Homo sapiens: one gene and its partners. The protein of the gene in region 1 purifies or fractionates together with the protein of each later gene. This does not show direct contact. Each region holds a gene or a part of one and is shown in the gene's direction. Other genes may lie near its edges.

Region 1 (3,500 bases):
AGTGGAGCGATTACGGCTCACTGCAACTTTTACCTCCTGGGTTCAAATGATTCTCCTGCCTTAACCTCTCGAGTAGCTGGGATTACAGGCATGCACCACCATACCTGGCTAATCTTTGTATTTTTAGTAGAGATGAGGTTTCACCATGTTGGCCAGGCTGGTCTTGAACTCCTGACTTCAAGTGATCCACCCACGTCAGCCTCCCAAAGTGCTGGGATTACAGGCATGAGCCACTGAGCCTGGCCTGATCATTGTTATGAACTTTTTGACTTTAATATAGTGGCCAGGAATACTAGGAAGTGTATTTATAATACCAGGAAATTTGCAGCAGAGATGAAGATCTACCTAATATAAATAGGTTCAGTGTCACTAATGCAGCAGAGATGAAGATCTACCTAATATAAATAGGTTCAGTGTCACTAAAAATTACAGACATGTAAATTAAAACAACATTGGGAAATTATTTTTGCCTATTAAATTCACAAAGATTACAATGATTTATAATATACACAAGCTGGGTAGGGTATGTTGAAATAAATACTCATAGAGTATTGAAGAATAAAAGGTACACAACTTTTTTTATAATACAGTTTTTTAAATAATACAGTTTCTGTTAAAATGCTACATGTTCATAATTTTTGACCCAGAAATTCAACTTCTAGATATGTATCCTACTGAAATATACAGATACTGAGGCATCCAGAGATACAAGTACAAAGTTACAAAGTTGTTCATTGCAACATTGTTTGTTTGTTTGTTTTTTTTTTTTTTGAGATGAAGCTTCACTCTTGTCCCCCAGGCTGGAGTGCAATGGCACGATCTCAGCTCACTGCAACCTCCACCTCCCGGGTTCAAGCTATTCTCCTGTCTCAGCCTCCCAAGTAGCTGGAATTACAGGTGCCTGTCACTGCGCCTAGCTAATTTTTTGTATTTTTAGTAGAGACAGAGTTTCACCATGTTGGCCAGGCTGGTCTCAAACTCCTGACCTCGGGTGATCTGCCTGTCTCGGCCTCCCAGAGTGCTGGGATTACAGGTGTGAGCCACCATGCCCGGCCCATTGCAGCATTGTTTCTAAAGGTGAAAATGTGAATACAGCCCAAAAGTTCATCAGTAGGATATTGCTAAAATAGATGCTGGTGCATCCATATGAATAAATTATATACAGTTTAAAAAAATTAAGTAGCATTTTATCTATAGATGTGGATAGCTAAGATACACTAAATTTATCAAGTAGGTTACAAAACCCTACCTATGTAATATCCACGTTATAAATAAATACATAAAGTCATAGTATATGCTAGTGTAATGTGAGTATGTGTGTATTAAAAAAAAAAAGTGGCCGGGTGTGGTGGCTCACGCCTGTAATCCCAGCACTTTGGGAGGCAGAGGCTGGCGGATCACCTGAGGTCAGCGAGTTCAAGACCAGCCTGATCAACATGGTGAAACCCTGTTTCTACTAAAAATACAAAAATTAGCTGGGCATAGTGGCAGGCACCTGTAATCCCAGCTACTCGGGAGGCTGAGGTAGGAGAATCGCTTGAACCTGGGAGGTAGAGGTTGCAGTGAGCCAAGATCGCTCCATTGCACTCCAGCCTGGGCAATAAGAGCAAAACTCTGTCTAAAAAAAAAAAAAAATCTGACAGAATATTTACCAAACTCTTAGCAGTGAATTATTTCTAAGTCACTAGTATTAGGGAAGCTTTTACATTTTATGTTAAATATTTTCTGTCATGTTTGACTTTTTTTTTTTACAGTAAGCATGCATTGTTAAAATCATCAAAGTAAGATTTAAAAACATGCAAAAGGAGCACAGACTAGATGTTGTTGTGCTATCAGTTGCAAGTATGAGCTGTACACTTAATTTTCTCCCCCTTTCTCAAATAGAATGCCCAGTGTTTACATGGGGACATTGCACAGTCACAAAGAGAAATTACACTAAAAGGCTTCAGAGAAGGTAGTTTTAAAGTTTTGGTGGCAACCAATGTGGCTGCCCGTGGTTTGGACATTCCTGAAGTTGACCTGGTGATTCAAAGTTCTCCTCCTCAGGTAGGAAATGGGATTTGATTTGGGAAAAATAAGAGCAATTTTATAAATTCCCATTTAATTTACAACATATTGCTTGGGATGTGAAAAATATGTCATCTCTTCTTGCTCTTAGCCATTTTTTGTTAGTGTGCTATTAAATTTATCAGATTCTGATACTTTTGCAGATGATTAACTCTATTGTTTGTATTTGAAGCATGGAGCAACAAAATCAGGCAGAGAATTACAAAAAGTTGCCATAAAGAAACCTGGGATGAGGTGGATTAAAAGGTTTTAAATCATATTGCCTTTACCCCAAAATCCACACATATAAATTGTTTGGAATGTTGAAAAGGGCAACAGGATTGAAATAAATATATTATTATTAACATTATTATTTGGATTCCGGAATGACTGCAACTTGCTAGATTTTTAAAAAATATTACCTTTTATAATCTTTAGGATGTTGAGTCCTATATCCATCGCTCTGGACGCACAGGTAGAGCTGGACGGACAGGGATTTGTATATGTTTTTATCAACCAAGAGAAAGAGGTCAACTAAGATATGTGGAACAAAAAGCAGTAAGTAGAGTTAAATTATTTCAGGCTTATTGTCTAAATGGTGCCTTAAAAGAGAGCTCTTCTTATATTTATTCTTACAAGTAGGTCTTCATAACTTTTCTCAGTTTAAGCTGCATTTGGCTGTGAAGCCTGTGGAGATCTAAATTTATATTAGCTTCAAGACTTTAATACAGCTTTTATTGTGAAGACAGTGGAGCTGACTTTCTCATCTTTTCCTTGAATTTCTCTCTTCATACTAAAATCAGAAGTGCATTGTGATTTCAGTACTTCTTAGTGTAAATGGGTGACTAAAAGATTGTCTTGGTATAATAGTTAAGATTCTTTTAAGTATGGTACAATAGACAGTTTCTAAAGAAACTGTACATTTTCTGTGGTCTGGATTTTTTGTGGTATTTCACATTTTTTCCTATTTTTATATGTGTTTTTATATGCAATTTCATATACTTTGTAAAATGAGATAGTGTAATAAGGAAAAAAGCTGATAGATTTAAACATCTGTTTTGTTTTGTTTTTTTTTCAAATCAGGCTTGTTTTACAAGTGAAATTCCATGATTGTAACTAAGGGGCAATTCAAAAAATTATTTTTCTCTTTCTGAAATTTGTAATTGATGATTTATGAGAAAAAAAAGATCTTGGCTGGGTGCAGTCACTCACGCCTGTAATCCCAGCACTTTGGGAGGCGGAGATGGGCAGATCACTTGAGGTCAGGAGTTTGAGACCAGCCTGCCCAACATGGTGAAACCCCATCTCTACTAAAAATACCAAAATTAGCTGGGCATGGTGGTAGACACCTGTAATCCCAGCTACTATGGAGGCTGAGGCAGGAGAATTGCTTGAGCCCAGGAGGTGGAGGTTGCAGTGAGCCAAGATCACGCCACTGCACTCCAGCCTGGGCA
Region 2 (4,494 bases), on another chromosome or scaffold:
AGGCAGAGGTTGCAGTGAGCCGAGATCGTGCCACTGCATTCCGGTCTGGGCGACAGAGCAAGACTCTGTCCCTCCCCCCAAAAAAAAAAAAAAAAGTTAGCTTATACCTTAAAAATTAGGTTTACATTTAGGAAAATTTCTCCTCTCTCATTTTTTCAGTCTATGTATTTAAATATTTATGTGAAGAATCCAGCAACAGTGTTAGGATAGGGGGGTTGTGGGTTTGGGGCAGTATTAGATTTATCATATTTTAAGTTCACTGTTAAGGAAACAGATCCCCTCCATGGTGTCATCCTAAAGCAGGCCTCCTGAGCCACCTGCAGCGGTGGTGACGTTCTGTTTCCTGGGAGCCTCTGCACCAGTGGCTTTTACTGTGGCAGCCTCTCTCAGGAAGGTCCTACACTACATGCAGGCCAGGTTGGTAGATGTGGCAAAGCCATCAGAATGAGGTTTTTGATGCAGAATAAGAGGGGCTTACATCTGATCTGAAGGAAAAACGTGGGCCTTCTGCAGTCCTTGATGTTAGGACTGTAATCTGTGGTTTTCCAGGCCAGTGACTCTCATAACCATGCTCCTGGCAGACACCAGGGGCTTGGCAAGGTAGCCTGAGAGGTGGGTGCTTGGTTGGTTTCTACAAATGCAGAGAAATGTAGACTTTTTACGGTGTTAACTTTTTGTCTTATTAATCTTTTTTAAAATCATTGGTGCCTACTTATTAACACATGAACAAAGAGCAATTAACAAAGCACCCAAGCCAGCACATGGCTTCTTGCTTACGTTTTCCACGGTGTGGTTTTTACATTCAGACATGATTTACATATGTTTTTCCTCATATAAATTGTTTTTAGTTCATATGTTTTTCCTCATATAAGTTGTTCTTAGTTCATGTGACAGAATTAAACGTATCCCTATGTATCAAGGTATTCTAAGACTACCTTCAGGGACCATTTGTATAGTTCATTACTAGAAGTTTCTCTGAACATGTAGAACACTGAAAAAAGTATTTACTTTTTTTTTTTTTTTTTTTTTTTGAGACAGAGTTTCACTCTTATTGCCCAGGCTGGAGTGCAATGGCGTGATCTCGGCTTACTGCAAACTCCGCCTCCAGGTTCAAGCAATCTCCTGCCTCAGCCTCCCGAGTAGGTGGGATTACAGGCATGCGCCACCACGCCCGGCTAATTTTGTATTTTTAGTAGAGATGAGGTTTCTCCATGTTGGTCAGGTTGGTCTTGAACTCCTGACCTCAGGTGATCCTCCCACCTCGGCCTCCCAAAGTGCTGGGATTACAGGCGTGAGCCACCATGCCTGGCCAAAATAAAAGGTATTTTAGGCTGGGTGCGGTGGCTCACACCTGTAATCCTCGCACTTTGGGAGGCCAAGGCGGGTGGATCACCTGAGGTCAGGAGTTCGAGACCAGCCTGGCCAACATGGCGAAACCCCGTCTCTACTAAAAATACAAACATTAGGTGGGCGTGGTGGCAGCCAACTGTAATCCCAACTACTCGGGAGGCTGAGGTAGGAGAATCACATAAACCCAGGGTGTGGGAGGAGGTTGCAGTGAACCGAAATTGTGCCATTGCACTCCAGCCTGGGCGACAGAGCAAGACTCTGTCTCAGGAAAAATAAAAAAGTATTCTACCCCAGAATCCACCCTGGAACCTTGGAGAATTGGTGTAAAAGGGACAAATGACTGAGCCAGTTGGAGAACCAGTGGCTTGAGGGAGCCTTAGTGGTAGACACAGTGATTTTGGAGCCTCTTTGGGTCTAACCTTGGAAAGTAAAATCTACCAAGTTATGATCTGCTTTGTATGCTAGAATATTAAAAATTTATTTGTGGAAACATCCAAATTATTTTCTAAGAGACTAGCATGTAACAATTGAAGTCAAAGAAGGGCTGTCTGCTGCTGGCAAAATCCAGGAAACCCTTCATTCTCTGGGTGATTTAGATTCAGGTCCATTGCCACAGCCTGTTGGCAAACTGGCTGCGATCTAACTCTGGTTTGGATTGTCAGGTAGCAGTGTCTAGGTACTGGAAAGAAGTTAAAGCAAAGTTTATTTTTCCTTTGTACAAAGGTTAAAAACTCTCACTCAACATCTTATTTTGATATTTGGGTTTTTACCATAGGAGTATCCAACCCTTACAACCTTCTTCGAAGGAGAAATAATCAGCAAAAAACACCCTTTCTTAACTCGCAAGTGGGATGCAGATGAAGATGTTGATCGGAAACACTGGGTGAGTAAATCTGATCTGTGCTGGGTCATCTAGGGGCTGCTAGAGAATTGAAGAAATGCTGGGAGCCAGAGACCTTGTCCCTTATTGAGGATTACTGGGGCTTTGCAACCAAGTAAAAGGTTGCACTGCACACAGACCTCAGTTGTTCCATCTTCCTTATGAGGACAGTTTAAATACGATCTGACCTGCTGCTTAAATAGCAAATGGTTGTCTGATGATAGCAACCCCAGAGTTCCAGCCAGAACTCTGCTCAGCTATCAGAATCTTAACAGTGTCCCCCCATCCTTCCCACCTGTTTGTCCATCTTCTGTCCACTGTTCCTTTCAAATCACCTCTGCTTGGGGAAAACCCTGTGAAACATGCAATGATGACCTCCGGCTTCGGGGCTGGCATGAGATGGAGATGATGTTGTGGGAATCTGCCTGCCCACTGGCTTATCAGGGCAGAGCCACATCATTTCTTTTTATCCTGGCTGCTGACAGACAAGTATAGTCTTGTCTTAAGTACACCACTATAAATCCTGCTGCCCCCCTTTTTAACTGTCAAGTGTAGAGCATTCTCACTCAGCAGTAGTGAATGCTTCAAGACAGTTAGTGTCCTGGGATCTTTTCATTTGTTGTCATATAAGTACCATGTCTTCAAAAATCAGTGTCTCGGCTGGGCGCGTTGGCTTGCGCCTGTAATCCCAGCACTTTGGGAGGCCGAGGCGGGCGGATCACCAGGTCAGGAGATTGAGACCATCCTGGCTAACACGGTGAAACCTCGTCTCTACCAAAAATACAAAAAATTAGCTGGGCGTGGTGGTGGGCACCCGTAGTCCCAGCTACTCTGGAGGCTGAGGCAGGAGAATGGCGTGAACCCAGGAGGCGGAGCTTGCAGTGAGCCGAGATTGTGCCACTGCGCTCCAGCCTGAGCAACAGAGTGAGACTCCGTCTCAAAAAAAAAAAAAAAAAAATCATTTTCTCAACCTAATAGCCTTTTGCTTTAGTTGACCATGGTGATGGTGAATTTTTGTTTAACATTGAAGAAGTTCAATGGGTTTACCCTCCATAAACCAACCAGAAATGGCTGTGTCAGTAGCAAAGATTCTAGAACTCGTTCTTCCCATTGCCTCTCACACCTGGCTATCTAAACTCTCCCCTGGTTCTGGCACAGCAGTCTGTGGAGAGAACTCCCGCAGACCCTTGTCTTGAGTTCACCTCACTAGAGATCAGTTGCTTTGCTTACTAATGTTTTTTATTTGTTTATTTTATTTAAAAAAAATTTTTTTTAGAGTTGGGGTCTTGCTCTGTCGTCTATGCTGGAGTGCAGTGGCATGATTATAGCTCACTATAGCCTCAACCTCCTGGGCTCAAGTAATCCTCCCACCTCCGCGCCCCAAGTAGCTAGAACTACAGGCACGTGCCACCACACTGAGCTCATTTTCTTTTATTTTTGTAGAGACAGAGTCTCCCTATGTTACCCAGGCTGGTCTTGAACTCATGATCTTAAGTGATCCTCTTGCCTTGTCCTCCCAAAGTGCTGGGATTATAGGTGTGAGCCACTGACCCAACCTGTTTTTTTGGTTTTTCTTTTATGGGGGTTTTTGTTTTGTTTTGTTCTGTTTTGTTTGGTTTGGTTTTGAGACAGAGTCTCAGTCTGTCACCCAGGCTGGAGTGCAGTGGCGTAATCTCGGCTCACTGCAACCTCTGCTCACTGCAACCTCCGCCTCCCAGATTCAAGTGATTCTCATCTCTCAGCCTCTCAAGTAGCTGGGATTACAGACGTGCACCACCGTGCCTGGCTAATTTTTGTATTTTTAGTAGAGACAAGGTTTCGCCATGTTGGCCAGGCTGGTCTTGAACTCCAGGCCTCAAGTAATCCTCCTGCCTTGGCCTCCCAAAGTGCTGGGATTACAGGCGTGAGCCACCATGCCCAGCCCCAAGCTGTTTTTTACTTGAGTAAAAAAAGGAGATCTATCAAATACTGAGGTTCAGTTAAATTTAAATTTAAACTTGAGCTTTTTAAAGCGTTTTTTGAATTCTATACATTTTGATTGTTGTAGCAAATGGACACTAAAAACTAGACAGTCATTTGTGTCTCTCTGTGATACAAGAGAATGCACAAGACCTGAGTATCCAGAAGGTTGGGGGAGCCCAAGTGGTGTATGAAGGTGCTGGCCACCAGCAGGTGGAGTTGGAAGGGCTCCCTAGTACCATCTGCGCCCACCCCTGCCCAGGGCTAGGCTCTTCCTGCATGGCTTGCTGCCTCACGAGATGGCT
Region 3 (4,494 bases), on another chromosome or scaffold:
CACAGTCACTTTTCTTTGTAAGTTACTTTACCTGTGTGTGCCTTAGTGTCTTCCTCTGTAAAACTGTACATATCTCAGGACTGTTGTGAGCATCAAATGACCCATTCCATTTAAAGTTCATAGAACGCTGACTGACACGTGGACAGTGCTCTATATAGTTAATCATTATTGTCATCCATATATATTCGTCCATACTGCGTCTATGGATGGAATCCAAGGGAAGGGTTACTGGTTTTGTTATGTATTATGTTCTATGTTATAACGAATTCCATGCCATTGCATACTGTTTTCTTAGACTCTGTAGTCAGGTTATTGGCAACAAATTTTTATCTTACAAGAAACAACTATTTAATAATAGGAACATAAGTGTAGTTTAATTGCCCTATGGGATTTATTAGATGTCAAGGCTGATTCCAAGGAAGATTGTGTTTTACAAAAATGGGTCTTTTAGGCTTACAGTTCTTACTTTCATTATTTGTATATCTGATAACATGCGTATTAAATGTGTGCATTTATAAGTATTTTAATGCCTTCATCTTTTTTTTCCCCAGTATTACAGCGTGAAATAAATTCCCAGTATTTTTCAAGATTATGTAAAAGGAGTTGTAATTACTGCTCAGCACCTAGGACAGCACCCAGTGCAACACAATGTACATGAACTCTGGCTTGAGGTTTGGGGCTTGTGTTCTGCATTCAGGAAAGAAAAGAAGAGAAAGTTTTTGGGAAATTTAAATCTTCGTAAGCCCTTACTCTAAAAGTATATGAAATGCAGAATGGTTTCATGGCTTTATTTCAAAATGTTTTACACTGGCTGTAGAACCCACTTCATGAAGTAGTTTGAGTTAAAATGATCTAATATTTGTGTTTTAACTTTCAGCTTTGTGTTATTCTTGGAAAATTTCGCACCACTTGTGAATTCCTTGAACCTGGGCATTGCAAACCCACTTCTGTTGGGCCCATCTCCTTTGCACTTTGCTCAGATTAAGACTCAGTTGGCGCTTCAGCAGCTGAATGCCGTTGCCTCACATGGTTCAACACCACCTTATACTTTATTAAATCAGGCTTTCTTGAAAATAGCCATGTCGAGACCCAGGTTTAATCCTCGAGGAGACTTTCCACTTCAAAGGCCACGAGCACCTAACCCTTCTGGGATGAGGCCTCCAGGACCATTTATGAGGCCTGGATCTATGGGTCTCCCAAGATTTTACCCAGCAGGGAGAGCACGTGGAATTCCACACAGATTTGCTGGCCATGAATCTTATCAGAACATGGGGCCACAGAGAATGAATGTTCAGGTAACTCAACACAGAACTGATCCAAGATTGACCAAAGAAAAACTGGATTTTCATGAAGCACAACAGAAGAAGGGGAAGCCTCATGGTAGCCGGTGGGATGATGAGCCTCATATATCTGCATCAGTGGCAGTGAAACAGAGTTCTGTAACACAGGTTACAGAGCAGAGTCCCAAAGTACAGAGCCGCTATACAAAAGAGAGTGCCTCAAGTATCTTAGCAAGTTTTGGATTATCTAATGAAGACCTAGAAGAACTTAGTCGCTATCCTGATGAACAACTAACTCCTGAAAATATGCCATTAATTTTGAGGGATATAAGAATGCGAAAAATGGGGCGCCGATTACCTAATTTACCTTCTCAGAGCAGAAATAAAGAAACACTTGGTAGTGAAGCAGTTTCAAGTAATGTGATCGATTATGGGCATGCAAGCAAATATGGCTACACAGAAGATCCACTTGAAGTACGTATTTATGATCCTGAAATTCCAACTGATGAGGTCGAGAATGAATTTCAGTCACAGCAGAACATTTCTGCATCTGTTCCCAATCCAAATGTGATATGTAATTCTATGTTTCCTGTTGAAGACGTATTTCGCCAAATGGACTTCCCCGGTGAGTCCTCCAATAATCGGTCCTTTTTCTCAGTTGAGAGTGGAACCAAGATGTCAGGCTTACACATTTCAGGAGGACAGTCAGTCCTTGAACCCATAAAATCCGTCAACCAATCCATTAACCAAACAGTTAGCCAGACAATGAGTCAATCTCTGATTCCTCCATCTATGAACCAGCAACCTTTTTCGTCGGAATTAATTTCATCTGTAAGCCAGCAAGAGCGGATCCCACATGAACCTGTGATTAATTCATCTAACGTACATGTTGGATCAAGAGGAAGTAAAAAGAATTACCAGTCACAGGCTGACATTCCCATTCGGTCTCCCTTTGGTATTGTGAAAGCATCCTGGCTACCAAAGTTTTCACATGCTGATGCCCAGAAGATGAAGAGACTTCCAACTCCTTCTATGATGAATGATTATTATGCAGCATCTCCAAGAATATTTCCACATTTGTGTTCTCTGTGTAACGTAGAATGTAGTCATTTGAAGGTGAGTGTTTTTAAAAAAAGATCACTGTATAATGATGCTCAGCGCCAGTTTTCTCTAAATTCTGATATGTATGCTGCTTGTTAACTAGGCGTTAAGGAAATGGCAGAAGGTAATTTTAATTGCAACCTCAATACATAGTTGTAATCTTAAGTAGCCCTGGCCTTAGTACTGAATTGAATTTTAGGCTTACTGTATTCCTATGACCGGGCACACCATATTTTAGTAGTGTGTCCATTTATTTTGAACTTTTAGTTATCCCACTTACGCAACATAAAATTTATGTAACATAAGCTGCGTACTTACAAGACAATGTCACATGGAATCACCTTTCTCTAAAAGGATCTGTTAGTATAAAAATACAAAGAGATGGTATAACCCATTTGTAATGCACACATTTAAGAGACAGTATATTATAGCCTTGCACATATACACCTGTCTTGGGATAAAGACAATTAATGTTGATTTAAATATTTCCTGACTTTATGTAGACTAGTGATTTTTAGTATTTTTTGAGAAGAAGCTTTCTAAAATAACTTCATAGCAAAAATAAGTCAAGGTGCAGTAATTATTCTGGGACCAGCTGTGGACTCAGAAAATAGTGTAAAATGATAGAAATTTGTAGAGAAAAATCTTTAAAAAATAAAGATGATTTAGGTAGTTTGATAGTATAGTTAGAAGGAAGTATTTTGCAGAGGCAGTGAAGTGTACTATAATGTAGAACATACTGTTCAGTCGTAATCATTGGTAGATTTGAGCAGGAATTTCCAAGTAAATTTTATTTACTTACGTATGGTTGGCAATCACTGTTTCTTCTATTTACTAATGTGATTTATAGATTTAGATTGTAAAGGGTCAGAAGAGAATATACTAACATGGGAAAAAGCTTTGATTCAAGGCCATGGCCTGGAATTGGTTGTATACTTAGGCTTAAAAATCTGTGTGTTAACGCTCTTGTTCTTTTCTTCCAGTGCTGCCTTTCGATTTTCTTTTCATTATTTACTCACTAGGTTTTCGTCAACATGAATCTGATAATTAGATCTGTTGGTATTTTCTTAAGGTTAACTCCAGCAAAAGAAAGCAGCATTCTACCCCATTTTAGCCAGATGTGCCAAATTCTATTAAAATAATAGTTGCCTTATTCCATCAGAAGGGATAGCAAAGTCCTTACAAGGGAAAGTCTTAGAATAATTCATATCACCTAATTGTAATCTGTAAGTAGCCCTGGCCTAAGTAGTGAATTGAGTGTTTGTCTGTATTCTTGTGACTGGGCATACCACATAATTTTTTTTAATTGATTTTGAACTTTTAATTAATCATAATGAATCCAAGAAAATACATCTTTAAATAAAGAACTTGAAGTTTTGTATTCTGTAGAGTAGAAAAGGTGTACATTTAATTTAGTATGTACTTATGGATACCAGTTTTGTACTTGACTCCAATTAGGTACTGGGGCAGAAATGAGGAACTGTGTAAAATTTTAGATGTTATTAAGCAGTTTATTCAGTCTTATTGGGGAGAAAAATTATGCTCCCAAGACATTTAAAACAATTAGAAGACAACAAGTGGTTTTGTGATTGATTTAACTTGTTTGGATATGCTGTAGGGGACAGAGATTTCTGTCTTGATTTCAGGCATGTATCACTCAGGCCAGCATCATCAATTTACCAATTTAATCATTACCAATTTGCCAATTTAATTATTTTAACTATTGTATTTGTAACAGTATGTGTTTAAAAATAAGTATAAATATGCATCCTGACATCAAAAGACTTTTATAGCCTAGTTAGACTAATGGAATGTCAGTTACTAAATGCACTAAGTCTGTCTTGACTAGAATGATGTGGGAGAGAAGACTTCATGGAGTAGGTTGAAGATGGGTCTTGAATTGAGGCTTTAGATATGCCTGTATAAAGAGGAGGAGGGGGCCGGGCACAGTGGCTCACTGCCTGTAATCCCAGCACTTTGGGAGGCCGAGACAGGTGGATCACCTGAGGTCAGGAGTTCAAGACCACCCTTACTGACATGGTGAAATCCTGTCTCTACTAAAAATACAAGAATTAGCCGGGTGTGGTCATGCGCACCTGTAATTCCAGCTACT
Region 4 (4,494 bases), on another chromosome or scaffold:
GATTCTCCTGCCTTGGCCTCCCATAGTGTTGGAATTACAGGCGTGAGCCACTGTGCCTAGCCAAGAACCTAACTTCTGAGTTAGCTGCAGCTCCATAGTTTTTCAAAACATGGACATTATAGGTTCTTGGAGTCCGTAGATGTTCATTCATTTGGTAAGTATTTACTGAATGCCTACCATGCACCAGGCACTGTTTTAGGGACTTGGAATTGCAGCAGGGAGTAAAATATTGTCCTTATCTAGATAGAATGGGATTTGAGATAGAAAAACCATAAACAAATGTATAACATTACCAGGTGCCGCATGCTATGGAGAGAAATAAAGGAGTGTAACAGGGATATAAAATACCAAAATAGAATTGTTAATTTATGTAGAAAGCCCCCCTAATAAGGTATCACGTGAAGAGAGGCAAGAAGTAAGTAAAGGAATAAGCTGTGAAGTTCTGAGTACAGCATTCAAGGCAGAGGGAAGAGCAATTTCTTAAGGCAAGAATGTGCTTGGAAGGTTTAGGAAATAGCAAAGAACCATGTGGCTAGAATGAGTGGGCAAGAAGGCAAGTGGTAGGCAATTAGATCAGAAAGACCAGACTGTATAGGACTTCATGGGCCATTATTAGGACTTTGGCTTTTACATGAAGTAAGACAGAAGGCCTTTGGAGGGTTTGAGGCAAGGGTGTGTGATATTATCAGTCAGTCTGGCCAGAGTTGTTTCTATTCAGTGTATGCCTTTATGTGAATTAGAAAATGGTGCTCCTTCCTTTGGACAGTTATAGCCCCACACCAGGATCATGGCTTAGCCAGCAGAACATGGACCGGATTTTGCTGTCCCTTCCTCCCTCTTCTTCCCTCCCAGCCAGGAACCTTTGTGCAGTGTACAGTCTATGAATCTATACTCAATAGCATTGACTGGGTGTGCTTTGTAGAGAATAAACTATAAAGGGGCATGAGTTGAAAGCAAGGAGACCAGTTAGGAGATGTTCTCCAAGTGTAGATATAAAATAGATAATTTAATATATAAATCTGAGGTTCAAGAAAAAGATCTAGGCTGGAGATGTAAATGTGTGAGTCTTCTATAGATAAATGCTAAAGTTCTGAGTCTGGATAAAATCGAATAGAGAAGGTATCTGATGTTTGAGCCCTGGGACACTCTAGGTTTTAAAGCTAAGAGAATTTGGAATGTTCCCAACACAAAGAAATGATAAATGTGTGAGGTGTTAGATATCCTAATTACCCTGATTTGATCACTACACATTGTATGCATGTATCAAAATAGCACATGTACCCCTGTATTAGTCCATTCTCACGCTGCTATAAGGACATACCCAAGACTGAGTAATTTATAAAGGAAAGAGGTTTAATTGACTCACAGTACCACAGGGCTGGGGTGGCCTCAGGAAACTTACAATCATGCTGAAAGGGGAAGCAAAAGCATCCTTCTTCACAAGGTGGCAGGAGAAAGAAGAATGAGAGCCAAGTAAAGGGGGACACCCCTTATAAAACCATCAGATCTCGTGAGAAGTTACTCACTATCACGAGAATAGCATGGGGGAGACTGCCCCCATGATTCAACTACCTCCAACCGGTTCCCTCCCATAACATGTGGGGATTATGGGAACTTCAATTGAAGATGAGATTTGACTTGCAGCCAAACCATTATCAACCGTATAAAGAATGTACAATTATTATGTGTCAATAAAAATTTTTAGTTAAAAAATAAATAAAGCTAAGAGAAAGTATGAAAAACAAAGGGGATTGAGAAGGAGCTGCCAATGAAGTAGGAAACTAAGAGAGTGGTTTTTGGAAGCCAAGGGACAAAGGTGTTTTAAAGGAGAGTAGCCAATAAGATCGAATTGTATGCTTAAAGAGGGTACACATTTGTGGAAAAATGCTTCTGGTAGGTCAAGGAAAATGTGCACTAAGAATTGTCCACTGCATTTGACAATGTGGGTATCATGGTTAACCTTGACAAGAGCTGTAGTAGCATAGGAAATACTGATTGGGTTGTGTTTCAGAGAGAAGAGGAAAGAAAATGGAGACAGAGACAATGATTTTGATAACCTAAATGAGAAGTTTTACTATAAGGGAGCTAGAGGGAGGAGAGATGGGTCAGTAGCTACAGGGAGATGTGCACTCAAGGGAGGATTTGGCTTGGTTTCATTTTTTTAAGAGGGTAGACCTTATAGTATGTCTGTATGCTGATGGGAATGATCCAAAGAAGAATGAAAAACCAGTGATTTAGAAAGGGGGATAAGTGCTGGAATGATTTCCTTGAGGAGATTAAAGAGATTGGCATATAGTTTACAAATAGAAAGGCTGACTTTAAGATAAAGGATGACTTTAAGATAGGAGCATGTGAAACTCCCAACTCCCCCTCATGTTTAACTGATCATTTCCTAATGATCAGACAAATCATAAGAGATTATATATGCTGTGTAATTTTTTTATTTCTTTTTTTTTAAATAGAGACAGGATCTTGCTATATTGCCCAGGCTGGTCTCGAACTCCTGGGGCTTAAGCAATCCTACCACTTCAGCCTCTTAAAGTGCTGGAATTACAGGTGTGAGCCAATGCCCCTGGCCTTTTTTTTTTTTTTTTTAATAATCAGAAATAAAGATAATTGGGTATTTTAGAAATGGGGCCTTAATATTCACAAGGAAGAATGAAACTCAGTGGTTTTCAGATTTTAATGCAGAATGAAATGAAATGCTCTTCATGTCCTATAGTGCAGAGGAAACCATCATTAGCATTGCTTTTTCCTAAGGATTCTTGAGTTAGTGAAGCCAGAATTAATGATTAAGAATCTGTTAAGTTTTGTTGTTTTTTTTTTTTTTAAACGGAATCTCGCTCTGTTGCCCAGGCTGTAGTGCAGTGGCACAATCTTGGCTTACTGCAACCTCTACCTCCAAGTTCAAGTGATTCTCCTGCCTCAGCCTCCTGAGTAGCTAGGATTACAGGAGCGCACTGCCACGCCCAGATAATTTTTGTATTTTTAGTAGAGACAGCATTTCACCATGTTGGCCAGGCTGGTCTGAAACTCCTGACCTCAGGTGATCCGCCAGCCTCGGCCTCCCAAAGTGCCAGGATTACAGGCGTGAGCCACTGCGCCTGGCCAAGAATCTGATAAGGTTTTTTTCCAGCAGGTCTGATATAATGAAGTCTGGTAAATACTATAGAAAATGGAGAATCTCCTCACATTCATTGTCATCTTTTGTAAGATACTTGACAATCCAGTTTGTATTGTGTATATCTGGGGACCCCTGAGGAGAGTGTAAAAGTTCTGATTGAAGATATGTGTGTAATTTTGCTCTTTTGTTCTCTATAGACCTAGCAACAGTAACATAAGCAAAGGAGAGTCACGCCCAAAATGGAAACCCAAAGCCAAAGTACCCCTTCAGACTCTACATATGACTTCTGAGAATCAAGAGAAAGTGAAAGCTCTTCTCCGAGACCTGCAAGAACAAGATGCTGATGCTGGATCTGAGTAAATTGTTTTATTTGAGTCAATTATTATATTAAGGAAAACATACTGGCAGTGTGAAGGTCCTGTGCATCTTTGGAATGCTGTGTCAGTACTGATTCTATTGTGGCCATTTAATTAGTTGAAAGTGAGCCAAGAGTAATACAAGAATAATTATTCAGCCACAATTTTAGAGTGAGTTTGTTTTGCAACATCCATGGGATTGCCTTTTTATCTTTATTTTTTTCCAGGGCAGTGCTCATATGGATTCAGTAACTGATTTATCTGTAACCTTCCAGATAAACCCTTGTAATGAACAAGTAGAAGTAGTGTTGAATGAGCAAATATTGACTCGGTCAGGTGCAGTCTTAGGATTTGCTTGTCATGACTGTCTGCCTAAGAGAAAGCTTTTACTCTTAAATCTTATTCGTTTCCCACTCTACTGCATTTCGGCTCTTTTGCTTTGGATTTCAGTTGGAGAAGTTAATTCCTTCTTTCCATTTACCAAAATTAATTAGTGGCCAGTCATGAACAGCTCATTTTCCATCCTATCTACAAATCTCTTATCTGTTTTAGATTTAGAAAGGGAGATTATGTAGCAAAACAAACAATTAGGGATAGTGTTTTTATGAATGAGAAGAGAGAGAATAGCCAAGGTTTCTGTGGTTAAGAACACAGGAATCTGTCTGCCTTTGGCAAAATCTCTATTTGCTCCTTAATGTGTAACCTAGGCAGTTACTAATCCTCTCTGAGTTTTAGTTGATCATCTAGAAAAAAAAAAAAAAAAGGACATTCCAGTAGTATTTGGTACAGTTATTGGGAAGATTAAAGGAGTTAGTTCATATAAAGCACTTAACACAGTAACTGGTATTTAATAAATGCCTGGTAAATGTTAATTGCCAAGATATAAATTAATAGTTCAATATAAGATTAAATCAGCAACTGAAGAGTAGTCAGGATCCTATGAATTAAATTCTTAGACCTTTGCTAAATTTTTCTTTGAAGTAAGTAGAAAGTAATATCTAATATATGAAAATG

Evidence for each region.
Region 2: the proteins of DDX50 (region 1) and GID4 purify together in Homo sapiens (affinity purification with mass spectrometry; one large-scale study listed by BioGRID and IntAct). This does not show direct contact.
Region 3: the proteins of DDX50 (region 1) and ZNF638 purify together in Homo sapiens (affinity purification with mass spectrometry; one large-scale study listed by BioGRID and IntAct). This does not show direct contact.
Region 4: the proteins of DDX50 (region 1) and DHX57 purify together in Homo sapiens (affinity purification with mass spectrometry; one large-scale study listed by BioGRID and IntAct). This does not show direct contact.

What each region holds. Positions count from the first base shown.
Region 1 is NC_000010.11:68,932,315-68,935,814, forward strand, and holds part of DDX50 (ATP-dependent RNA helicase DDX50), read left to right. Parts: intron 1-1,884; coding exon 1,885-2,046; intron 2,047-2,484; coding exon 2,485-2,604; intron 2,605-3,500. UniProt on the Homo sapiens protein: ATP-dependent RNA helicase that may play a role in various aspects of RNA metabolism including pre-mRNA splicing or ribosomal RNA production.
Region 2 is NC_000017.11:18,052,002-18,056,495, forward strand, and holds part of GID4 (glucose-induced degradation protein 4 homolog), read left to right. Parts: intron 1-2,125; coding exon 2,126-2,233; intron 2,234-4,494.
Region 3 is NC_000002.12:71,347,876-71,352,369, forward strand, and holds part of ZNF638 (zinc finger protein 638), read left to right. Parts: intron 1-551; exon of another isoform or gene 552-877; 5' UTR 878-1,079; coding exon 1,080-2,396; intron 2,397-4,494.
Region 4 is NC_000002.12:38,862,347-38,866,840, reverse strand, and holds part of DHX57 (putative ATP-dependent RNA helicase DHX57), read left to right. Parts: intron 1-3,321; coding exon 3,322-3,480; intron 3,481-4,494. UniProt on the Homo sapiens protein: Probable ATP-binding RNA helicase.